Linked DNA regions of Homo sapiens. The protein of the gene in region 6 interacts with the protein of the main gene of each other region in a pairwise test. Each region holds a gene or a part of one and is shown on either strand. Other genes may lie near its edges.

Region 1 (3,500 bases), on a different chromosome or scaffold from region 6:
TGTATTATGTTTATGGTTCCAGGAAGAGCCAAAGAACTCAAACCACCCAAGAAAGTGAGCTCCCTTTCCTCCGGAAGGCACAAAAAGAGGCTGCTGGTGGCAACATATTCCGTTGTTTCAGATGGCTCCGAGCCTGCCATGGCACTTGAACTCAGTCTGGTGGGGTACTGGGTCCCATGTAGGGAACTAAATTCACTGCAGCCAATGAAAAGTACTGTACAGTGAGGTGGAGTAGTTCCCAAGACAGGATGCATGCTTGGCTAGGGATGTGGGATGCTGAAGTCCTAGGGTGCTAGAACCTAGTTTGATTTCATTATCTCAGCACTAGAGATTTAGAGGGGAGAGTGGCCTAAACTGGGCCTTGGAGATCTGCCTCGGGCTAGTCTTGATCTCAAGGGCAGTAAGGCCAGCCCGTGGTTCCTATTTAGAGTAACTCAAACCCTCAAAGGGTGCCCGCTACTGACTTGGGATCAGGATAATTATTCTGGGGCATCTGCTTCCATCTCTGGCACTCCATTCTCACCCTCATCTCTCCTGTGACTGAAGGAAAAAGCCAGCAGACAGTTTACTAACCCAGAGGGCTTGCCTCCCTTTCACTGTCAGCCTGAGGAGTTGAAGTCACCCTTTGACCAAGTGATTGCAGGTCATCGCCGGTGGCGGGACACTTGGTGTCTTCCTCCAGGGTGATGATGGGGCTGAGAGGCAGCCTTGGTTCTGCCACATAGGCCTCCATTTGAGCTGTGGGAGAAGTGAGAGGCAGGTACAGCACGCTGGGTTTTTTTGGTACGGGAGGTGGAATCTTGCCTTTCTTTTTCTCAGCTTCTTCCTGGCTCTGGAGGCTAATTCTTTCAGGCAGAACCCTCACCTTGGGGCCCTCGTCCTCTACACTTCCCTGGGGAGGCTGCTGTGTTCCTGAGAAGAAAGCATCAGAGGAACTGGCAAAAGGCGTGAAAACAAGAGATGAGGGTGCTGTTGACTCCCCTGGGCTTCTGCCATCTGGGAAGCTGGAGGGCTTTGGTTTCCGCACTACCGTGTAGCTGTCTTGAGGGAGTGGTCTCGCATGTTGAATTGAGCTCCTGGGGGGCATAGCCAAGGTTGGTGAAGTTAGTGCATACTCCTCAGGAACAGATGGTGGCTTGTGGACCAAGCTTGGAGGCCTCCGGGCCACCGGAGGCTTCTCAGCTACGGGAGGTTTTGTCTTTCTCTCTGGCAAGGTGAAGACTTCTTCTGCTCTGGGTTCCTCGGCATACTCAGGGCTCTCAATATCATCTTCCGGCTCAGACTTGCTGACCGACCTCAGGCGAACAGAACGTAGGTCGGACTGAGTAACCATAGGCATGATTGGCTGGTTGGGATTAGTTTTCTGGGCCAGCTTGACGCCAAAATTTGTCTCTGAGTGGTGCCGACTCACCTTAGTTTTGCTTCGGATGGAGATACTCATCCCAGACAGATCCAGGTTGGGTGAAGAGGTCAGTGGTAGGTCAAATGATAGCCGTGACTTGGGAAATTTCTCCATTGGTGACGTCGGGGGTAGTGATGACTTCCTCTCAGGTACCACTGGACGTACCCGGACACTGCTGCTTGGAGGGGGTAAGTGGCCCAGGGTCAGGGACATGGAAACAGTGGGTGTTGGTGTTTCCGACTGGCTGGAGTAGCCACTGGAGGGTGACATCAGTCCAGGGGGCCTTCCCGGGGATGATATCTCCCTGGCCTCCACTTCAATGGAGAGTTGGGAAGGTGTAGTGGCTCTGGAGGTGGAAGGTGAGGCAAGAGACTCTGAGCTGCCCTGAACTTGGGTGCACTCAATGACTGTGGTGCCAGTGGCAGTGCTGGAGCTGGACAGGGATTGGTAGGTGTCACCAGACTTCCAGTCAGTAAGATACCAGTGGTGGGAGAATTGTGTACTTTCTGGATCTTTGTGGTTTGGAATAGCTGGGTGACCCTGAGCATCTGGGTGGGACGAGTGATGTCCTTGATGTTCCAAGGAGAGGCAAAGGCTCTTGGGCCTCTGGTCCTTGGGTAGTGCTGACCCACCTTCAGGCAAGAGGCCTGGCTCATCTTTGACCAGTGAGACACTGCGTGTGGGTGGGGAAGGCTTCTTTTTGGCCTTCCTAAGTGAGATACTCTTGGACCTCTGCCTTCTGTGCTGGGCCTCTTGCTGGGCACTAAGGGAGGCAATGTTGTCAGCACTGTTACTGCCCTCAGAGCTCGTACTGGCAAAAGGCAGGGCACAGGCCTCATTGGCCTTCTGCTCCTCATCATAGTCCACATCTGTGGTGCCTGAGTCTGTGGGCACAGACAGTGACCGCTCCCGGAATCTGCTGGCCCCACCGGGGCCTGTCTCCAGCCTCGAGGTCCCACTGGTCAGAAGGCCAATCTTGGAGGGTCTTTCGGGCATGTGCCTTTGCTGAATAAGGCGCTCAGGGTAGCCAGCTGACCCACTGCATCCTGCTGGGTTATCACGAGCGACAAGGAGGGTAGCAGCCTCCTTAGGAACCAGAGGTGGGACTTTGTTTAGAGAGACCCAAGAATTCCCACAGGAAGGATTTTTCCCATTTTCATTGACTTGATTGCTCTGGCTGGTGGCACTTGGAGTCATGTAGGTAAAAGCATCTCCCTTCCAGGAAGTGGAGAAGGTTGATTCTGTAGGTCCATTGCAAGAACTGGGGACACTGTACACCATTCCCATGCTCTCCATGCCAGGAGGGTTTGGGCCACTCCGTGCCTGGTGAGGTTCGTCCGGCTCACTGGAAGGAGTTCTCAGTACTGGCGAGGTGAGACTTGGGAACCGAGCATCCTGACCAACTGCAACTCTTCCATGAACCCCTTCTGGAACTGAGTGACTGGGCCTGATGTCGGAGGTGGTAGAGTGGGCCACACTGCCTGCTGGGCTGTTGCTGTGACCTGGAGGAAATAAACACAGGACATGAGTGCTACAGCAAGGGATCTCCCACCAGCTGTTTTGAGACAGGAGCACCAACTTTTTGCCAAGAAGCATTTGCCAACAGCTTGGTCAGAATTCCTTGGTTCTTCCCTTCCATGGATGAAGATGCTGGGGAAATTGGGTCCTTGCCCATCACCCCACAGTGAGACATACGGTGCCCTTGAATGGTCCAGATGGCTGCCAAATACTTTCCAGCTTTGATTATTCCTCTTAGAGCTGAAGTGTCACGTGGGATTACCTTGCATTTTCCCCATACTTTCACCCCAGGCTCATGAAACCATCACAGACCTCAGCATTCATCCATCTAGAGATGAGAGTAGAGGCTTCCGAACTAAGGACGGCATGGTGTGACGTTTGGCTCCAGCAATGACTCTGGAGCATGCCCAAGATGCAAAGCTAAGAGTCTGGTTGCATTGTTCGCACCCATCACTTTTAGGCTTTGCAACATAAGAGGCTGAGGATAATCTACGGATGTGAGGAAACCGTTTGGATGTTCCAAATCCCCAAAGGTTTTCTCATACACACAAACAATTAATACTGTCATGTCATTATTATT
Region 2 (3,500 bases), on a different chromosome or scaffold from region 6:
AGGCTTGAATATACAGCCTAAGCACCAATTATGATAAATGCATATTGGTAAAATGTGACTTCTGGCTTTAAAAGACATTATTGACCTCCCTGGGGCTAAAGATTGCACCCATGTGAGTAATACACTGCTAAAGAATAATTCATTTTTTAAGATCTATAGAGGTTCTCCACTAGGCACAATTCATTGCTGAAGTTGGATCATGCAACAGTTTTACAAGAGAAGTAGGAAAACATACGTATACTGAATATAGTGCATATCACCATGAAGACTTTCAGCATGTAAGATTAAGACAGGACAGTGCTTTAAAACACTTGCATGGATTTGGGTTTGCCTATTCAAATGAAAGGGAATTCATTGAGATTTATATGGAAAAATTCCATGTTGGGGTTAATGGCCCACCACTCTGAACTGAGTCCAGTAAGAGCTTGAGGAATTTGGCTTTGTTAGTACAGACCTTCTCCTTGCACTCCTCTTCTCAGTATTCAACAAGCTGTCTTTGTTTAAAAATATGCAAAATGCACTGATTTTTGGAGTGGTTCATGTGACTTTTACTGCTCATTTTGTTAAAAATTCTGTCTTAAGTTAGAAGGTATTTTTTGCTTTCTTTTCAACATCTGAAGAACAATGCATCACACTTGGGAAAAAAACATTTCTTCACCTTATAATTGGTAATGTGCTACAATTACCTTTTAATTAAGATCTGAGCCTTTTACAAGTAGATTTTCTTCACATACTTAAAATAGATCGAAACTCTGTCTCAAAAAAAAAAAAAAAGATAATGAAGACTAAATGTTGATTCTGTATTAACAAATGGAGGCAGAGGAGAGTAAATGACTCTAGGGCAGACTTGCCAAACCCTAGCTTGGAGGGAGTCCCATATTGCCGTTCATGCAGAAAGCAGACACTATCATTAGTCTGAGGACTAACCCTAAAGGGGCCACACCCATTAAAGCTGAGGAGTGTCCAAATACCAGGGCAACAAAACGTCATGGCAAATAGTCTTCTCCAGATATGAAAACCCAAGACTGTGGTCTTCACATCTTTAATCCCCCAAATTCTTAAGTTGGTGTTCTGAGTCAGGACTCTATTTCAAAATAGGGTCTCACATCCAAGGAAATATGTCCTTCTGTAGAGCAGTTCTTACTTGACTATGCTTCAGGGAAAAGAGCAGCAGCATCTATAAACATACATGTATGTGTGTGAGAGTGTGTGTAATTTAAAAGGGGATCCAGAGCCCCTTCTTGATTATAAATTGGAAGTAACAATAGGCCAAACTGTCTCCTTAAATAAAACCACTGATACTAAAAAATTAAAAGATTAAACAGATCACAAAAAAATCAGACAGGTGGTGGAGAAGACCCCAAAGAGGAGTTACAAATTTAACACATTTGGGAAAGTAAAGATGACTTTAAAACAAACTAAAGATAAATCACAAACCCAAACTCAGCAGCCTAAGGGAACCTTCATAGGGGGAAACTAGGAGGCTCCAGCACTGTCAGGTCACACTCCTTTCTAGACTATGCAACCCTCTAGGGTTTCTTCCAGGGCTGTTGCATTGGCAGCAAAGCGGGACAGGCAGCAGTAGGCATGTGCTTTTTTTAAGTTTTTTTTTTTCTCTGCAAAGGGGCAATTATTCCTGGATAAGGCAAGATAATTGTGGTCACAAGAGAAGCAGCCAAATGCAGATCTGTTGAGCTAACAGGGGGAGTGTCTCAGTCAGTCTTTCCCAGCTTTGCAATCAGCTCATCACAGATTTTTGTCAGTTCTTCAATTTCTTGGTTCTGAAAGACAAATGACATAATTATGCAGGCCACTTTGTATTCTGAAATAAAGGCAAATAGAGTTAACTAGTCCCAAGTCTGGATCTACCCTACCCTAGACATCCTAATTCAGTGATTTTTAACTTTTCTACATCAGAGATGCTTTAAAGAAAAAAAGGCTACACACCTCAAAAAATGTACTCATAAAATCATGCTTAAATTGAGTAAAGGGTGAGGACAGTCACCAGCCCTCTGAAACTTGTCCATGAATCTCTTAGTTCCCCAATTTTCTTGTTATCAGAGGAATTATCTGGGGTACTTGTCAAAAACATAAGTATCTGGGTCTCACTCAATCCATTAGCATATCTAGGGATGCTGGAGTCTGAATCTCCCAGGGAGCACCGTTCTAGGGGCTAACAGACCCTGTGATAAAAACTCCTGCTCTTGATGAATGGATGGCACAGGTATGAGTACATAATTGGAAATGCAGTAAAGAAAATACACCGGAGACATATAAAAACGGAAAGCTAAAAATTGCTTAGTGAGAAACAGGGATTGTTGCTAGTCCTGGTTTTCATTTATCTATAGCAGTTTCTCAAAGCAGCCCTGCTGATGTTTTAGGATGGGTAAATGTGTTGTCAGAGGCTGTCCTGTGCATTGTAGGATGTTTAACAGCATCCCTGGCTTCCTGCACTAGATACCAGCAGCATCTCCCAGTGGTGACAACCAAACAAATATATCTCCAGACATTACCTAACACCTAACATCCCCTGGAGGGCAAAACTGCCCCCAACTGCAAACCACTGATCTAAAGCAATGAAGGGGGAAGATGGCTTCATATTAATATATTGCATAAAAAACAAAGAAAGAAAGAAAGGCAGTCTCATGACCCCAACTAGGAAGCTGTTCTGAACTTCAGTTAAAATGCAACTTCCTCTCTGCACCCTGCCTGTGGATGATTTCCACATGATGTGCTTGAAAATTTAATGGTTTGACTTGTTTGTTTCCACCTGGATCAGTTCAGAAAGGAGCTGGACTGAAATGTCTGAGTAGAAAGCCAAGGCCTCTTTCACCCAGATCTGTCATTAAGTGAGTCACTGCTGAGGAGGAAAACCAAACGTCTCTGTGGCCACCCAGATCAGGTCCCTTTCTGTACCTTCTGCTGCAGGGCCCTTTCCAGGGACTCCACCTTCATCTGCTCTTTGCGGAGTCCAGCATGGAGAGCTGCACTCTCAGCCTTTGCTTTTGTTCGAACCTGAGCAATCTCTTCATTGGCTCTGTTTATGGTGTTTGGGTGTAATAAAGAGACAAAAAGCACATGATTAGCCACTAGTCAAAGCCAGTCAGGATACTAACCACTGACATCTGTGAGGCACAGGCCTCAAAGAATTGACTGCATGAGAGAAAAAAAACAAAAATCGGTGACCTAAATAATTCCATTTTAATTTATAAAAATTCAATTTACAGACAACTTCAAAATTTGTATCTCACTAGCAAATGGTTTCTATAACAGTCTTAGATTTTTTTTTTTTTTTTAGACCAGTACAAAAGCAGACTGCATAATTTTGGAGACGATCACAGCTAGAGTTGGGATACTAACCACTGACATCTGTGAGACACGGGCCTACAGGGAATGAGTTTATTAATGAGATGTGAAAGGCATTCTTTTTTTTTTTTTTTTTTTTTTTTTTTGAGATGGAGTCTCGCTCTGTCACCCAGGCTGGAGTACAGTGGCGCAGT
Region 3 (3,500 bases), on a different chromosome or scaffold from region 6:
TCTATATAGATTTGTATTTTTAAACAATCATACTTAAGGTAAATGTTGCAAATACAAAGTGAAATCAAACATCTTTTGTTTGACTTTTTACTGACCTAATAACTGTTAAAAAAAAGAAAAAAAAAAAACTAAAATGAACATATTCAGTTTAGACAACCAGAAAATACAAACTGGGGGGAAAGCTTACTGTATACTTTATGATCAAAAGTATACAGTAATATGGCTTTTATTTGTACATAATTTAATATGCTACTGTGTTATGCACACAAATCTTACTCTCCTTTCAAGGTACCCTTTAAAAAAAACTGTCAAAAATCTAATGCAAAATAATCCAAAAGAAATGTATGAGCCAAAACTACAATATACGTAAGTTTAAATTTTCCAGTAGCCATATTAAAAAAATTGAAATTAATTTTAATGTTATTTAACCCACTATATCCAAAATACTATGATTTCAAAATATAAACAATATAACAATTATTAAAGATCATTTCACAGTCTTTTTTATTCTGTGTATTTTAACTCACAGCATATCTCAATTCAGACTAGCCACATTTCAACCACTTAATAGCCACATGTGGCTAGTGGCTACCATACTGGACAATCCGGGTTTAATTAATCCCTTTATTAGACCAGTGGCAAAACTAGACTGGGTATAGTGAATAACGCCTGTAATCCCAGCACTTTGGAAGGCCAAGGCACAAAGACTGCTTGAAGCCAGGAGTCTGAAACCAGCCTAGGCAACAAAGTGAGACCTTCTTCTCCACAAAAAAAATTTTTTAATTAGCAGGGTGCGAGTGAGTAGCATGCACCTCTAGTCTCCGGTATGTAGGAGGCTGAGGCAGGAGGATCACTTGAGCCTCAGAGTTAGAGGTTACAGTGAGCTATGATCAAGCCATTGCACTCCAGCCCAGGTAACAAACAGAGTGAGACCCTGTCTCAAATAAATGTCTAAAGGATAAAAACTTAAGAAGAAAGCTGTCAGAAAAAAAGGAATATTACTCATGAATCTACCAAAAAAAGAATTATATGCAAATGCCCAATAAATAGATGGCAAGTAACATCACATTTGCACTGCAATGACTTCTACTAGTTTAAAACTGGTGAAGGACAATCCTAAAATTTGCATTAAAACCTCCAGGAATGATTTCCATACTTACAGCATTCGCACCCTTTGGGTGCTCTCTCTTTGTTAACTTGATCTGTGTGTGTTCGTGATAAAGGACTATGCTCTAGTAATTACAGCTGTTATAAAGCTTTGCACAATGCTAAGGGGTATGTGTCTTTAAAAAAAAAAAGAAAAGAAAGTGGGTCTATCTCGCTCATTGTTCTTAACCATTTAGCCATATCTGGTAACCAGCAGGTGCTCAAATATTTGTTGAATGAATGAATGAATGCCACTGGTATTTAATAAGGCATAGAACTTCAGTGCTGGAGATATGGCATGTGACAGAACAACTGGCCCAACCTACCACCCACAGCAGAAACACCCTCCACAATATTGCAGACAGTGGCCACCCACCCATTGTTTTAAACAAAGTCTTCAGATACTGATGGCCCAAATGCTGCATGGGTCACAGCCAAAGACATGTTTTGGCTGTCCTGCCCTATTGAGCTGGTGTGGTATTGTTAAATAATCTGAATTGAAAATATTTAAAAAACAGATTTCACATGGAAACCACTATCAAGTTTTTGTGAAAAACCAATAAATCTGACAATCTGGCATCTTCAACCCTGACACTGCCAAGTGGTTACTGCCCCCTTTAACAAGGCATCCGTTTCAGTCTCCACAGTCCCAAACCACACTCTACTTCTCCAATAAGGAGTCGTAAAATCAGTTGGCTGCTGTCACTTTGGGCTGATGGTTTTCTTACAGTAGTTGAGCTAAAGGGAAAATCAAATATTTATTGTCTCCATATTTACAGCGAAAAACTAAAATGAAGGAGAGTCCTATATTTATTATGCCTGGGGCTCTCTTCATTAATGCACCCGTTTGGCCCTGCAGCATCTAAATTTGACACCTGATGTAAACACATTTAGTGGCAGAAGTCTGATATACTTAGCCCATTTCATTTCTGGACAGCCTTAGTGGGGTGTGTGTGCGCGTGTGTCTTCTTTCATGCTAAGTTAAATCTGCCTTCCTATTCCATCTACTCATTGACCTGGAACCTCTGCTAGAGATATCCAGCATACTCATTCTATCCATAAGAAAACTATCATATTCTGCAGTCACCCCTTCTCATCTCCTGTAACTGTTCTTTACAGAGAAAAGTTTTCAAACTCCACCATTCTAAGTTTCCCCTCTCAGGACATAATCTAACTTCGTAGGGTTCTTCCTAAAGAAGAGGGAGAAACATCCCAGTAATGCTATTTCGGATCTAGACAGTGAAATGTATGGTGTAATGGAGCTCATATTCCAAAAGACAAATGCCATTATTACTGAATATAAGCCATTGTGGCACTCTCTGTACAAATCCTGTGGCAGAGGTTTCTCATTCAACATCCATTCAACAAATATTTATTAAGCATCTACAGAGTACCATGTCAGGTAAATTCCTGAAAACAGAAAATCATTCATCTTGTTCTTCATATGAATCACATAAAAAACTAGCCAAATCTTAACATTAAAAGCCTACAGAATTTTGTGAAATATGTATATAAGTGCAATCTAATTATAAGTAGAAATATCTAGTACATAACTAAAATTTTATTTGTTTTTGCTAAATATTAACATACAAAAAGTTTTCTTTGGTCAATCAAGCATGGGTTCCCAATTAGCCAATGAAGATCTACCAGCAGAATATCAAGTTTTATCTAGTAGGACTGATTTCAAGGGATGCTGTCTTTCCCTCCTCAGTGCGCCAGATTGGCAGCAAGGGAGGAAACATAAAGGTGATGACTAGCCATTAGGTAGTCCCACTCCTTAACTCTGCAGTATTTATTTTCCTATTACCATATATGAATGTTTTCCTAGTTAGTATTTCAGTAGTCCATTATTCTATGTATCAAGTACATTGCACAGTCAGAATAATTCCTAAAGACAAACATAGCTTTTTTTTTTTTTTTGAGACAGAGTTTCACTCTTGTTGCCCAGGCTGGAGTGCAATGGCGCGATCTCGGCTCACTGCAACCTCCGCCTCCCAGGTTCAAGCAATTCTCCTGACTCAGACTCCCAGGTAGCTGGGGTTACAGGCACGCGTCACCACACCTAGCTCATTTTGTATTTTTAGTAGAGATGGAGTTTCTCCATGTTGGTCAGGCTGGTCTTGAACTCATGACCTCAGGTGATCCACCCGACATGGCCTCCCAAAGTGCTGGGATTACAGGTGTGAGCCACTGTGCCCAGACTTACAAACACAGTTAATAAGGAGTTTAACACAAAGTTCATGTTCAATATCCAATATCTACTTCAAGTATGTATCAAAAGACGAGAGTTCATTTTGACATTTTAACAGTGGGGGAGGCCCCTTTATAACTACAGTTTTAATTTATTCACCTGG
Region 4 (3,203 bases), on a different chromosome or scaffold from region 6:
TTCAGATCATCCATGGCCTCTGACTCTGAAAAGGAGGTGAAGGTGGTAGATCCCCATACTGCTCAAGCCCAGATTTTTTTTTTTTTTTTTGTAGATGGAGTCTCGCTCTGTCACCCAGGCTAGAGTGCAGTGGCGCAATCTCAGCTCACTGCAACCTCTACCTCCCGGATTCCAGTGATTCTCCTGCCTCAGCCTCCTGAGGAACTGGGATTACAGGCGTGCACCACCACACCCAGCTAATTTTTGTACTTTTAGTAGAAATGGGGTTTCACCATTTTGGCCAGGTTGGTCTCGAACTCCTGACCTTGTGATCTGCCCATCTCGGCCTCCCGAAGTGCTGGGATTACAGGTGTGAGCCACCATGCTCAGCCTCAAGCCCAAATTTTATGGTACCTCTCATACAGAGCTCTGGGGAGAATGAAGTGAACTTGGTAAGATTCAAACAGATAATTATCTCAGCTTCCACCCTCCCTCAAGAAGGAAGACACAGTGAAAAGCCATTTCTGTAGCGCACTTTATAGACCAAAGCTTAGACAAGGTGGAGGCTAAAGACCTGAGGAGCCGAGTCAGGGAAGACAGATTCCAGCCCTCCCTCAAGGCAAGCCTCTTTGAACACACCTTGGAACTTCCAAACACTTGTTGCCATTGTCATCCTCTTCTGGTCTAGAGAACTCAGCTCCTTCTGGGACTCAGGGTTGGGGAGTACCTTTATCAGAAGGGAATGAAGGAAATCCCATCAGCAGTTCCACCCCTCTGGGCCAGCTCAGTCTGTGGCCTCCATCTTGGTCCCCCGGGGCACAAGGAAGATGGTCCCATCGGCAGCCTGTTGCAGCGCGTACTCTTCAGGAGAGTAGCTGTTGCCTGATTCATCCCGAAGGTGCTGGAAAATGTCACGGTACAGCTCTGTCAGCTGTTGGCGCATGACCTCCAGGGTCCGGTCTGCCTCCCCGCGGGCCCTGAGAAGCCGCTCCCGTTCATTGGTCAGCCGCTCCAGCTCCCGCTCCAGCTGCACAATGGTTTCCAGCTTCCTCTTGCGGCAGTTCTGGGCTGCCACCTTGTTTTTGCCCCGTCGTCGGATGTCCCGGACTAGCGCTAGCTGGCTCTCTGTCAGCGGGTACCTTGCCAATAGCTCATTAAAGTCATCTACCGGCAAGTTGACAATCTTGTCCGTAGGAAAAGGAATCTTCATGGCCAAGGCCCGACGTTCATCCCGACTCCCTGCCTCCCCCCGTGCAGTGGGCTTAGCCCGCACAGGGCCTGAGGAGGGCTCTAAGGCCAAGGGGGTCTCAGCAGCTGGCAAGGTATAGTTGGAGTGGGCCAAGGAGTTGGGCATGAGTGAGTAGGGGTACTCCACTGGGTACATCTCTACATATTCGCTGCGCCGCCGACCAGCCTCTGTCCCCTCCAGCTCAAGAGATTCAGCATCGCTATAGTTGAGGGATAATCCTGAGTCGGATTCTGGGTCTTCTTGGGGCTTAGGTGGCCCTGCTGGCAGCCCAATGTCCAGGAGGGCTAAGGGGTCTTGGAGCGGCTCACTGAGCAGGCCTGAGAGGCTCAGTGGCTTGGAGACTGGTATGGCCATGTTGCCATAGGAGTATGGGGGATCTGGGACATGGGATGTGGATGCTGGGAGCTCATAAGGTGGTGGAGGAAGTGGGAAGCCAGAATCTGGGTGGATTGAGCAGGGGCAGTAAGTTGTGGGTGGTGGAGGTCCAAGGTATGGAGCTGGGGCTTGGGGCTCAAATGATGGCTCACTTGGAGCATTCAGACCCTGCAAGGAAAGACACAAAGAGATTTGGAGACAGACTAAGGAAGAGAAACCAACACTCTCTCAGGAACAAGCTGGATTCTTCTGAAAGTCGCAGTGAGGTAGTAACAAGGAAACAAAGTTGCCACAAATCACGGGAAGCTTCCTGCAAAGTTATGATACAGTTGTTGCAAGAAAAATGCAGCTTAAAGCCAGGAATGGTGGCTCACACCTATAATCCCAACACTATGGGAGGCCAAGGCGGCAGATCACCTGAGGTCAGGAGTTCGAGACCAGCCTGGACAACATGGTGAAACCCCATCTCTGCTAAAAATACAAAAATTAGCTGGGCATGGTGGTGAATGCCTGTAATCCCAGCTACTTGGGAGGCTGAGGCAGGAGAACTGCTTGAACCCCGGAGGTGGAGGTTGAAGTGAGCCAAGATAGTGCCACTATCCAGCCTGGGCGACAGAGCAAGACTCCCTCTCAAAAAAAGAAAAAATGAAAAATGCAGCTTTAGCAAGAATGGAAGTCACTGAGGTTGGACTGCAGAAAAGACTACCTAACATTGGAACAATTATGAACTCTCCTTGGAGAAGCTCTTACTGGGTTGAAATGGCTCATGTTCGGCCAGGCATGGTGGCTCAGGCCTGTAATCCCAGCACTTTGGGAGGCCAAGGCGGGCGGATCACAGGATCAGATCAAGAACGTCCTGGCTAACACGGTGAAACCCCCTGTCTACTAAAAATACAAAAAATTAGCTGGGGTGGTGGCAGGCGCCTGTAGTCCCAGCTACTTGGGAGGCTGAGGCAGGAGAATGATGTGAACCAAGATTGCACCACTGCACTCCAGCCTGGGCGCCAGAGCGAGACACCGTCTCAAAAAAAAAAAAAAAAGAAATGGCTCATGTTCCTTTATTTCCTTCAGGAAGTCAAAGCCTTTTTATCCAAGATGACCCCTCAGAACCCTTTCCTGCTGCAGTTATCTAGGGTCAAAGGGTCAAGTTCAGATCCTGGCCATGCCCCAGATGCCCAGCAGAGGGAGCCGCTGTGTGGGAAGAGGGCCTAGGGCAGATCCTGAGGGTGCTAAGCATGGTAGCAGGGTAGTAAAAGGGGGGTGGCTGGGGGCTAAGAAGCACCTTGGGGAGCCAGCACAAGCTCTGCCTTCTCCTCTTCAGTCCCTCTGTCCCTGCCCAGGTGCAGCGAGAAGTAGAGAACATGCTAGAAACAAGGCCCCCAACCTACATCAGGGAGCCACCCTGCTCCAGCCCAGCTGGGGACAAAGGCATCATTGTCAAGCCAACAGACACCCCTTTGTCCAAGTAGCAGGAGGAGAGGACCCTGGCATAGTCCGACTCCCCTTCCTGAGGCCCCTGAACTACTGCTCTGTTACCTGGGGTAAACGGGCCCAGTTGCCAAGGGCAGGCGGAGGTAATGAGGGAAGAAGATGGCAGGAT
Region 5 (3,500 bases), on a different chromosome or scaffold from region 6:
GCTCCCGCTCCCCGGACCACCACCACCACCACCATTCGCAGTACCACTCCCTGCTCCCGCCCGGTGGCAAGCTGCCTCCCGCGGCCGCCTCGCCGGGCGCCTGCCCCCTCCTCGGGGGCAAAGGCTTTGTGACCAAGCAGACGACGAAGCATGTCCACCACCACTACATCCACCACCATGCCGTCCCCAAGACCAAGGAGGAGATCGAGGCGGAGGCCACGCAGCGGGTGCACTGCTTCTGCCCTGGGGGCAGCGAGTATTACTGCTACTCGAAATGCAAAAGCCACTCCAAGGCTCCGGAAACCATGCCCAGCGAGCAGTTTGGGTAAGTGCCGGGCGGACCGCAGTGTCCCGTGTGGGGCTTGTCTCCCAGCCAGGTCCATGGGCAGGTGTGAGGTGGGAGCCGCATTACAGGCATTTAGTTTCTAAGAGGGCGGCAGAGTGCACGGCCGGGTGAGGGTGCGGGGAGCAGGTGCATGGGTCTTTCGTGTCACCAGCCCCCCGACTTGCTGAATTGTCTGATTCTAGGAGTCCCGGAGATTTAACCGGGTCTCTGGGTTGGGTGTGGTTCTTGGTTCCCCACAGCGGCAGCAGAGGCAGTACCTTGCCCAAACGCAATGGGAAAGGCACGGAGCCGGGCCTGGCCCTGCCCGCCAGGGAAGGAGGGGCCCCCGGCGGAGCTGGGGCCCTGCAGCTTCCCCGGGAGGAAGGAGACAGGTCGCAGGATGTCTGGCAGTGGATGCTGGAGAGTGAGCGGCAGAGCAAGCCCAAGCCCCATAGGTAAACACCGCTTGCCGCCGCCGCGGCCGCGAGGGTCATGGGCACTCAGTACGGAGGTATTGTGGGAATGGCTGTTTTTGCAGTCCGCGGAATACAAATGTGACTATTTGCTCCTGCCATCTTAATATTAAACGTTGGACTGAGCAGACCACAAAAATGTCATGTTTTGGCACTGACCCCTGTTCATGTTATGGTAGTTTTTTTTTTAACTCTCTCTCTGAGCAGAATAGACAAGTTTCTATTGAAGTCACATTTTCCAGTTCTTCTAACCCAGTTTCTTTCCTTCTGTTTTCTCTCTGCTCATTCCTTGTTTAGTGCCCAAAGCACAAAAAAGGCCTACCCCTTGGAGTCTGCCCGCTCGTCTCCAGGCGAACGAGCCAGCCGGCACCATCTGTGGGGGGGCAACAGCGGGCACCCCCGCACCACCCCCCGTGCCCACCTGTTCACCCAGGACCCTGCGATGCCTCCCCTGACCCCACCCAACACGCTGGCTCAGCTGGAGGAGGCCTGTCGCAGGCTAGCTGAGGTGTCGAAGCCCCCAAAGCAGCGGTGAGTGGAAGTGAAGGGTCCTAGGTTGAGGCAGGGATTGGGTTTGGGTGGAGACCTGGTCTGTGGCTAATGGGGAGGGCCTCTCTTTCTGCCTGGGTCTCAAACCCTCCCATGAGAAGAAGAATTACTTATGGATGAGTAAGCTGCTGCTTTCCAGCTTCTAGAAATTGTTCCCTTCAGTTATGTTCATTCTACTAGAGTTAAGCCAGGATCTGTGAGGCAAGTCATGCCTAGAATTGGGAGAATGAATTTCAGCAATTGCTTACAAATCCCATTCCTTACAAATGTCTTGATTGTTTAAGGCTGGTTAGTTGAGTATATAAGAAGCTGTGAGATGGAGGATCAAGAGTCCTCAGCCCTTTGCTGGGGCTGAGAATGTCCCATCCTGGGCTCCCAGGGGGGCTTAGAATGGCTGTTCCAAGACGTCTTCCTGGCCTCTTCAGCCACTGTTAACCCAGGGTCTTGGTTGGGTCTCCGTAAGGATGGAAGTCGGGTTCGTGTCTCTTCAGGAGGCCAAATAGTAATTTTCTGTCTGCTTTTCAATTGCTCTGGGGACAACAGTGTACCTCTAAATCCCTCGCCCTGGCTGTGTCCTCAGGTGCTGTGTGGCCAGTCAGCAGAGGGACAGGAATCATTCGGCCACTGTTCAGACGGGAGCCACACCCTTCTCCAATCCAAGCCTGGCTCCAGAAGAGTGAGTGTCTTTACCTGACATTACTGAGATCTGCCGAGTGCTTTATGTTTCAGAATATTCGCTATCTGGAGTTTCATTTTCATGAAACTTTTTTTGGTTTTTAAAATCACTTTGATTTTAGCGCTAGTGATGAGGAACAGTAAACGTAGATGTTGCCATCCATGTCCTGCCGACAAATGCATCATAGCAAAAGTTTTTCTGGTCATACACAAATCAAAAGCTGGGACATGAAGCCATTAGCAGAAGTGTAGAAGGGACCTCAAATTCAGCTGGAAAAGTTGCCCCCATTCAACTTGCAATTTAGTAGTACTGGAAACATTTGTCACCCCTGAGCAGAAAGATCATTCTCCACTGTGGCAGAGGTGGAGGGGACCATCCTTGTGTTTTTGTTTGGAGAAGACAGAATATCTTCCCCCAAATTGGGCAGTGATTCTTTTTGTAAATTTAGTCTCTTTCAAAGTAGGTTGAGGAGCCTGCTCGTTTAATTACTGGATGGTGCAATTAAAAAGAAATCTGCTAAAGAGATCTAAAATGGTCTGTATCAAGTTTTCTTTCTTAGTGTCTTCATCCTGAGCAATGAGCAATGTTTGAAGTCCTCAATAGGCCACTGCCCTGGACCCTTTCATTGTTTCAATTGGTTGACCCTAAGTGTACCAGCTCTCTGGGTCTGGGCCAGCCACTTTTTTTTTTCTTTTTGAGACAGAGTCTCGCCCTGTTGCCCAGGCTGGAGTGCAGTGGCTTAATCTTGGCCCACTGCAGCCTCCGCCTCCTGGGTTCAGGCAGTTCTCCTGCCTCAGCCTCCCGAGTAGCTGGGATTGCAGGCGCCCACCACCACACCCAGCTCCTTTTTTGTATTGTTAGTAGAGACAGGGTTTCGCCATGTTGGCCAAGCTGGTCTCAAACTCCTGACCTCAAGTGATCCGCCCACCTCGGCCTCCCAAAGTGCTGGGATTACAGGCGTGAGCCACCACGCCCGGCCTAGCAGCCTTTTTTTCAAGCCATTCTACAAAATCTCAGAAGAAATGGGGAAATGGACATGACTGTGTGATAACCCCCATTAGTTGTTCTCATTCTGCTGGAATAAGGGGTGGGCTTTAGGCATTCTGAGATCATGCCATCCCAAAGGTGTCCTGCTCTGGGTTTGTCTCTTTAGCACTCTCCAATCCAGGTGAGACCCGGCATCTCTGTGATAATTTCTCTTCTCTCATCTTCTTGAGGAAGCACCCCATTTATGCCAGCCTGAAAGAGGCCGCCGTATACTTTCATTTGGTGGCGGTGGGGGAAATGATACCAATTTGTACAACCAAAAGGAAATCATCCTTTTCTGCATGCTGCATGCAGCACATGTGGGGTTGGACTGTGTGTCCCCCAGAGCTGCCTGACTCTGGGATGTGGGGCTCTGCCCCAGCCCCCACTTTGGGTTTACAATTGCAGCCCTAGTGTTTGGATACCCTGTCACTTATGCACATGTGCGCAC
Region 6 (3,500 bases):
AACAAAAAAGATGGGCTCAAGTTGCTGGAGGCACTACCTCATGAATAGGCTGCAGAACTAAGGGGTTGACCAGGGGGATTCATGCAGATTCCCAGGGCAGTTTTTTTTTTTTTTTAAGACAGAGTTTCGCTCTTGTTGCCCAGGCTGGAGTGCAAGCATGATCTTGGTTCACTGCAACCTCCGCCTCTCAGGTTCAAGTGATTCTCCTGCCTCAGCCTCCTGAGTAGCTAGGATTACAGGCACCTGCCACCATGCTTGGCTAATTTTTTTTTTATTTTTAGCAGAGATGGGGTTTCACCGTGTTGGTCAAGCTGGTCTTGAACTCCTGATCTCAGGTGATCCATCTGCCTTGACCTCCCAAAGTGCTGGGATAATAGGCATGAGCCACCGCACCCGGCCCCCAGGGCACTTTTTGAAGGCACAGGTGTACAGGTCCTCAGATTTTGGACAGGTTCCAATTTGAATAATTATATTCTCTCTCCCTTAGTACCCCCTGCTGTTTCTGGTGGATACAGAATTCTTATTCACTCCCTGCACTAAACTGTTGTGTAGAGTTGCTGTGCAGCTGTTAAACAGCTGCCACATTTCTCTCCATATATAGTCTCTAAAGCATTTTTGGATGAAAGGAATTATATAAACATATTTTATTGTCATGTACTGGTTGCCTTACCACTTAGTTGTAGGTTTTGTGAGGTTGTAACTATTAAATTCAAATCCATATTCCACAGCACATCAACGTTTAATTTCTTCCCCCACCTGCTCTCCAATGCTCTCTAAACAGCAAGGCTCTTACCACAAGGGTCCGTAGACAGAGTGTCCCTGCAGGAGCACGGGGGTCCAAAGCAGCCACAAGATCCCACACTTTAATTTTTCTAAAGATCAAAAAGGGGACAAAAATGTTAGTTAAAAGCAAATGTAAGAGAAGGCAGGGAAGAATAGCAGAAATTCATGGCAATAAATATGGATGGTGAGTATAGTTCAAATGTACGTGATTAACCTACAAATGAGAAACAGGCTAGCTTTAACCAAACTGAAGACAGTTAACAGTAAAGTTATACCATACTTTGGGATCAAGAGGAGATCTTGTACATTAGACCTTTTAATGATATTACACAGACCTAGAAATCTACAACTGTGAAGCATCCTCTTCCTGGGCACTTCTAAGAGTGGCCCAGGTCACATGTACTGAGGGACTGGGGTCCATGTAAGAGCAATGGAGTTTATATAAGCAAGCCCTCATCTTTTGATTTAAATAAGATAAGTGTAGCTCTTCCAAAAATCTTTTAATAGGCCATGTTTCCTCAAGGTACATAGCAGACAAATTCCAAGACAGGTGGGTACAGATCAAAGCCAGGACAATAAGAAAATATTGTCTTGACCAAGCTGGAACATGTCACCACACTCTGAACAATTTCCCAAGGTTGTAACAGTGATGGCTGTCCCAAAGCAGAAGAAGTGAGCAGTCTACACTTCCTGCTGCTTGCATTGGCTAATGAATGTATCAGTGTAGTTAACTCATGAACTAAAATAATGTTGTTAGTTTCTGATATTTAAAAAGCTGCCAAAATCAGGCAGATTGACAAAAAGAAATGATAAGAGTTCTTCCTAAGTGAATAACTATTTTTTTTTCTTTTTTTGAGACGGAGTCTCGCTCTGTTGCCCAGGCTGGAGTGTGGTGGCGCAATCTTGGCTCACTGCAACCTCTGCCTCCCTGGTTCAAGCAATTCTCCTGCCTCAGCCTCCTAAGTAGCTGGGATTACAGGCGCCCGCAACCACACCTGGCTAATTTTTGTACTTTTAGTAGAGACTGGGTTTTGCCATGTTGGCCAGGCTGGTCTCGAACTACTGACCTCAAATGATCCACCTGTCTCGGTCTCCCAAAGTGCTGGGATTAAATGCATGAGCCATTGTGCCCAGACTACTTTTGTTTGAATTTACTCTGTGTTTAGGATTGGTGGACATGGGGTCCATTCACAAAATTAATGGATTCCATAACCACTAGAAATTAGAAGAAAATAAAGATGACTAAACTCATAAATGAAATGCTAGGATGACAAGTGATGACAAGAGAACTGTACTCTTAAAAATTACTCAAAGAGATAAAAAACCCAAGAAATCAAAATTCAAGATCTTACCACACTAAGTCCCCAAATACTGCCCTCTAGTGTTTCTGTTTTGTTAACAGGTTACCCTTTTACATGGGTAGCCTGTTAACACTGGGTTTTTCTTGTTCTTTGCTTTACAGGGCAAAACAGTCAAATACATAACCAAATAACCAAAATATGAATGACAACCATGTGCAAACAAGTATAATAAAATGAATGGGAAGAATATTTCAGGACACTAAACCAAGGAGAGGTAAATACACGGATTAAAGAAATATGGTATCAGATATTTTGTGTAAAATCTATAAGCTTTTAGAAACAAGGAATGGTTATGTTTAACACCATAAACATAAGGAAGGATTAAGACGTAGATTTTCTCTTTTTTACACTCTGTTAGCACACTCACCCATCATAGGCCCCACTGACTATCCTCTTGTTATCAAATCGAATACAACGCACCAATTCCTCATGGCCTTCTAACACTCGTAAACATGCACCACATTCTATGTCCCATAATCTGGAAGAGAAAATTAAGTCAGGTGAATTTTCACGTATTCTTTTCTAAGCCTGGAATGTTATAACAATACACCTCATATGCCTTCTAAAAATTCATAAAATAAAATCAATCACCACCCACACAGATATGTACTGCTTTCAATGTAATTTATTTCCTTTCTGCTATATAACTCACACAGAAATATGTAGGTTTAAGTTCAAATGTAAAATGTATTTTCAAAGCACAGGGCTTTACATAATTCTGTAAACAGGTTCTTCCAGGCATAAAAACGAATTCAATGCACGCAGTTGCCTGAGAAGGAAATGACCAAGCTAAGAAAGCAGTTTCCTGAAGTCACCAAACTGAAAGAGATACAGATTATCAGTGATGTCCTGTTCTCACAAAGCACCTCCCCCTCTGCCACGGCAGACACTTCTTTCACCACTGTCCAGGACAGCTCTTCTCAGAGAATAGAAATGCAAAGTCAGTTCTCAAGAACTTTTGTGTACTAATTATAAAAACTGTACGTTTTCAGAGCAATTCAAGTGATTTCTAGGAATAATTTCCTTAGATATAACAAACAGTAGCTCTTTTTTAATGGCCTTTTCATCCTTTTAATACTTCACTGAAGGGAGAGGATGGATAAATCTTCCAAATTATAATCATATCTATGTCATTCATCTTTGTGAAGGGAAAACCCCAAAAAGGACTTCCAACTGTGAAATCTTCATAATTTCAAAGACAGGTAACTCTCTGGCCAATTATGTAATGCTAAGACAAAAATTACATAATTTCTAGTAAGGAAACAAATCTTTCTTTTCATTTCTTAAAAACAATGGCAAAGAAAAGGCTGTTAGCTGTTTATTAGCACTTTTCAACGGTAGACAGGAGAAATTTAA
Region 7 (3,500 bases), on a different chromosome or scaffold from region 6:
CTGTCTCTTCTAAGGACGCCGCGTGGATCTAGGACTCACCCCAATCCAGGCTGATCTTGTCTCAAAGTCTGTTCCATAATGACACCTGCACAGACCCTCCTCCCAAATAAGTCACGTTGGGAGCTTCCGGTGGATGCGTCTCTTGGGGGATTTGGCACAGGATGGAGGCTTCAATGTTCCCTGTCTGGTCCCCTTCCTTTCACACATGGAACTGAGGCTCTGAGAGGAAACAAAACAGGCCGCAGGCAGTGGAATGTGAGTCGCAGGCAGGGCTGGAGCTGAGGCGACCATGGGCCAGGGTTGGTACGTGGAATCCCATGCCGTCCTACGTGCATTCTGCGTGGAGTGGCCCAGCCAGGGTTCTGGCAGGTGCCCCCGACGGCACTGGCTTCCTCTCCAGCATCCCTGTTCCGTTCGTCCATCCCGCAGCACTGCACCCACTCCCCACATGCACGTGCACGCTACACGTGTGCCCCCAAGTGTGCGCCCCACCGCCTCCCAGCCCAGGCAGCTGGTCGTGGGCGAGGCAAGGAGGGGCCCCAGGGAGAAGGAAACTCAGGGCCTGAGGGCGAGACCATGGAGGATGCCAATGGCCACAGGGGCACGTGGCCCATTGCCCTCCCACTTGGACACTTTGGGGTGCGTGTGTCTGGAGGGGCCAGGAGAGTGGAGGGGACGCAGTGGAATAGAAGCTGCCCAAGGCGGTGGGGGTGCGGGGGCTCGTCCTCCTGACCTCCAGGCTGCAGCTGCAGGCTCTGCAGGGCCCGGCACTCGCCCAGTGAAGGCAAGGTCTTGGAGTGGTGGCGGACGGTCACCTCTAGAGATGATGTGGTCTCGCGTTCCAGTCAGGGGAGCGCCCAGCCCCGCAGCCCCCAGGCTGGGCTCCTCATCCTGTCCTGGTGGCCAGAGTGGCAGGCGTTGCGAGCAAGTTCAGGGCTGTGGTGTCAGGTGCGGACCTCCAGCGCGCAGAGCCTCATCCGAATACCGCTCACCGGTCAGAGCTCGGGTTGAGGGGGCGCGCTCCTAACCCCATTCTCTGGGGCCTCCTGGTGCAGAGGAAGCTTCCTCCAAGATGAGGTAGGAGATGGGAGGCAGCTGGCCACGGCCTCTCCGCCACCCACCCCACACCCTCCACGCCCCCGCCACTGTCACTGGGCCGTATCACCCATGATCCCCCCCTCGAAGGGAGGACGAGGTTCCTAAATCAGGCAGCAGCTTCCAGCTCTTTCCGAGGGGCACAGCGGGAGCTGCCATTTGTGACGCTGTCCAACCCAGCAGCCACTGGGTGTGTTTAATGGTAAGTTAGTTCACATCAGAGGCAGGTCAAGAGCCAGGACCGCAGACACACCCAGCTAATGGCTGCCACGCTGGACCCAGCAGATAGTTCCATCATCCCAGAAGGTTCTAGAACAACACTGGGGGAGGGCGGGCAGCAGACAGCACAGGCTGGGCAGGTGGGAATTCACCGTCAGGGACAGCCGGCAAGCAACACGCGGTGCCCCAAGGACTGTGGGAATGGGAGAGACCTGCCAAGACACATGTCCTGTGTCCCGGGGAGCCAGGCCAGGCCTTGGCACAAACAAGCACCTTCGGCGGGAGAGGAAGACACCGGGCAGGGGAGCAGCTGGGGCTGAGCCCATCTAAGCCTACCCGCTCTGGAGGACACATCTGCTGCCAGGACTGCCCAGCCATCCACGCACCCCCTCCCCACGATGCCAGTATCAGGCCCGGCGAGACTCACCGTTTTCCCGGTGCTGGAAGGAAGGGGAGAACTCTTTGGCAGTGATCCTGGCGATCCGCGCCTCCTCCTGGGCTTTCTGAGCTGCTGTGAGGGCTGCCTCGGCCTTTGCCCGAGAGTGGGAGGTCCTGGGGGAGACAGGGAGGAGCGTGAGGGGGGGCAGGGGGCACAGGTGACAGGGGTCTGGGTTGAGGTACTCTGCCAACCCCCCAACAACGGGCTGGGCTAAGACAAGATGCTGGCACCCCATGTTTACCCTCAGACTTCTGGATCTTGTTCGTTCATTCATTCATTCATTCAATAAACATCACTGAGCATCAACCAACCAGGCCCAGTGCACAGGACATGCTTGAAAACACCTCTGGGCAGGGCATGGTGGCTCACGCCTGTAATCCCAGCACTTTGGGAGGCCAAGGCAGGAAGATCGCTTGAGCTCAGGCGTTCACGACCAGCCTGGGCAACATGGCAAAAGCCTGTCTCTGCCAAAAATACAAAATTAGCTGGGTGTGATGGCACGCATCTGTGGTCCCAGCTACTCGGGACACTGAGGCAGGAGGATTGCTTGAATCTGGGAGGTGGAGGTTGCAGTGAGCTGAGATCGCGTCACTGCACTCCAGCTTGGGTAATAGAGCAAGACTCTGTCTCAAGGAAAAAAAAAAGGGGAGGGGCTGGGCACAGTGGCTCACGCCTGTAATCCCAGCACTTTGGGAGGCTGAGGCGGGCAGATCATGAGGTCAGGAGTTCAAGACCAGCCTGCACAACATGGTGAAACTCCGTCTCTACTAAAAATTACAAAAATTAGCCGGGTGTTGTGGCACGTGCCTGTAATCCCAGCTACTCAGGAGGCTGAGGAAGGAGAATTGCTTGAACCTGGGAGGCGGAAGTTGCAGTGAGCGGAGATCACGCCATTGCACTCCAGCCTGGGTGACAGAGCAAGACTCCATCTCAAAAAAAAAAAAAGAAAATGTTTCTGTTCTTATTATCAACAAACATCAGCATGTGCACAGAAAGAGTCCAAGCCCAGACAACCCACCCCGGCGGTGCCGGCCCGCTGTGCTGTGTGTGTCTGTGCTTCCTGCCACTGCCCCGGTGTGGGTTGCGGGACCACCTCCCTGCCCAGTAATCCCAGCAACTCTGACTTGGGAACCCAGGGCTTGGGCAGCTGGGCAGTTCCCTCACCCAGCCGAAAGATGACGCCGACACCCATGTGTGACACGAAGGAGCCATTGTACCTGTGGGCAGCCGGGCACGTCACCCCTCTGGCCGCTCCCTGACTGTGTCTCTCCCTCTGCTGAGTCCTGCAGGGGACCTGCCCACCCTTTGTAAGACAAGGGACTAGACAGACGTCCCGAAGGCAGAATGTGGGGCTCTGTGCATCTCAGCAGCCTGGGGCTTGCATTTCTTCCTACCTGGTGTGCTGGCCCCCGGGGGGGCCTGCCAGTGGCCATGGGCACCACTTCCCCAACAATGGGGAAACTGAGGCACAATGACCAATTCCCCCACGACAAATCCCCCCTCCGAGCAGACTCCCTGGGAGGTCTCCTGTTCACGGTTCCTGACTTAGCCTGTTGGGGCTGCAACAAAGCACCGCAGCTTGGGCGGCTCATCAATAGCAGACATTGCTTTCCCCCAGTTCCGGAGGCTGGAAGTCCAAGATCAAGGTGCCAGCAGATTTGGTGTCTGCAGAGGACCCACTTTCTGGGTCCTGGACAGCACCTTCCTGCTGGGTGCTCACATGGTAGAAGAAGCGAGGGTGCTCTCT

What was found.
Region 1: the proteins of BTRC (region 6) and NHSL2 interact in binary tests that used the Homo sapiens proteins (3 or more experiments, as listed by UniProt).
Region 2: the proteins of BTRC (region 6) and TACC1 interact in binary tests that used the Homo sapiens proteins (3 or more experiments, as listed by UniProt).
Region 3: the proteins of BTRC (region 6) and TRIM36 interact in binary tests that used the Homo sapiens proteins (3 or more experiments, as listed by UniProt).
Region 4: the proteins of BTRC (region 6) and NFE2 interact in binary tests that used the Homo sapiens proteins (3 or more experiments, as listed by UniProt).
Region 5: the proteins of BTRC (region 6) and AXIN2 interact in binary tests that used the Homo sapiens proteins (3 or more experiments, as listed by UniProt).
Region 7: the proteins of BTRC (region 6) and JPH3 interact in binary tests that used the Homo sapiens proteins (3 or more experiments, as listed by UniProt).

Annotation. Positions count from the first base shown.
Region 1 is NC_000023.11:72,137,845-72,141,344, reverse strand, and holds part of NHSL2 (NHS-like protein 2), read right to left. Parts: intron 2,905-3,500; coding exon 574-2,904; coding exon of another isoform or gene 569-573; exon of another isoform or gene 1-568.
Region 2 is NC_000008.11:38,846,236-38,849,735, reverse strand, and holds part of TACC1 (transforming acidic coiled-coil-containing protein 1), read right to left. Parts: intron 3,038-3,500; coding exon 2,917-3,037; intron 1,782-2,916; coding exon 1,713-1,781; 3' UTR 1-1,712. UniProt on the Homo sapiens protein: Involved in transcription regulation induced by nuclear receptors, including in T3 thyroid hormone and all-trans retinoic acid pathways. Might promote the nuclear localization of the receptors.
Region 3 is NC_000005.10:115,159,909-115,163,408, forward strand, and holds part of TRIM36 (E3 ubiquitin-protein ligase TRIM36), read right to left. Parts: intron 1-3,500. UniProt on the Homo sapiens protein: E3 ubiquitin-protein ligase which mediates ubiquitination and subsequent proteasomal degradation of target proteins. Involved in chromosome segregation and cell cycle regulation. May play a role in the acrosome reaction and fertilization.
Region 4 is NC_000012.12:54,291,611-54,294,813, forward strand, and holds the end of NFE2 (transcription factor NF-E2 45 kDa subunit), read right to left. Parts: exon of another isoform or gene 3,140-3,203; intron 1,772-3,139; coding exon 764-1,771; 3' UTR 501-763; downstream 1-500. UniProt on the Homo sapiens protein: Component of the NF-E2 complex essential for regulating erythroid and megakaryocytic maturation and differentiation. Binds to the hypersensitive site 2 (HS2) of the beta-globin control region (LCR).
Region 5 is NC_000017.11:65,534,149-65,537,648, reverse strand, and holds part of AXIN2 (axin-2), read left to right. Parts: coding exon 1-325; intron 326-585; coding exon 586-780; intron 781-1,095; coding exon 1,096-1,329; intron 1,330-1,927; coding exon 1,928-2,023; intron 2,024-3,500. UniProt on the Homo sapiens protein: Inhibitor of the Wnt signaling pathway. Down-regulates beta-catenin. Probably facilitate the phosphorylation of beta-catenin and APC by GSK3B.
Region 6 is NC_000010.11:101,535,665-101,539,164, reverse strand, and holds part of BTRC (F-box/WD repeat-containing protein 1A), read right to left. Parts: intron 2,623-3,500; coding exon 2,512-2,622; intron 873-2,511; coding exon 794-872; intron 1-793. UniProt on the Homo sapiens protein: Substrate recognition component of a SCF (SKP1-CUL1-F-box protein) E3 ubiquitin-protein ligase complex which mediates the ubiquitination and subsequent proteasomal degradation of target proteins. Recognizes and binds to phosphorylated target proteins.
Region 7 is NC_000016.10:87,682,508-87,686,007, reverse strand, and holds part of JPH3 (junctophilin-3), read right to left. Parts: intron 1,867-3,500; coding exon 1,742-1,866; intron 1-1,741. UniProt on the Homo sapiens protein: Junctophilins contribute to the formation of junctional membrane complexes (JMCs) which link the plasma membrane with the endoplasmic or sarcoplasmic reticulum in excitable cells.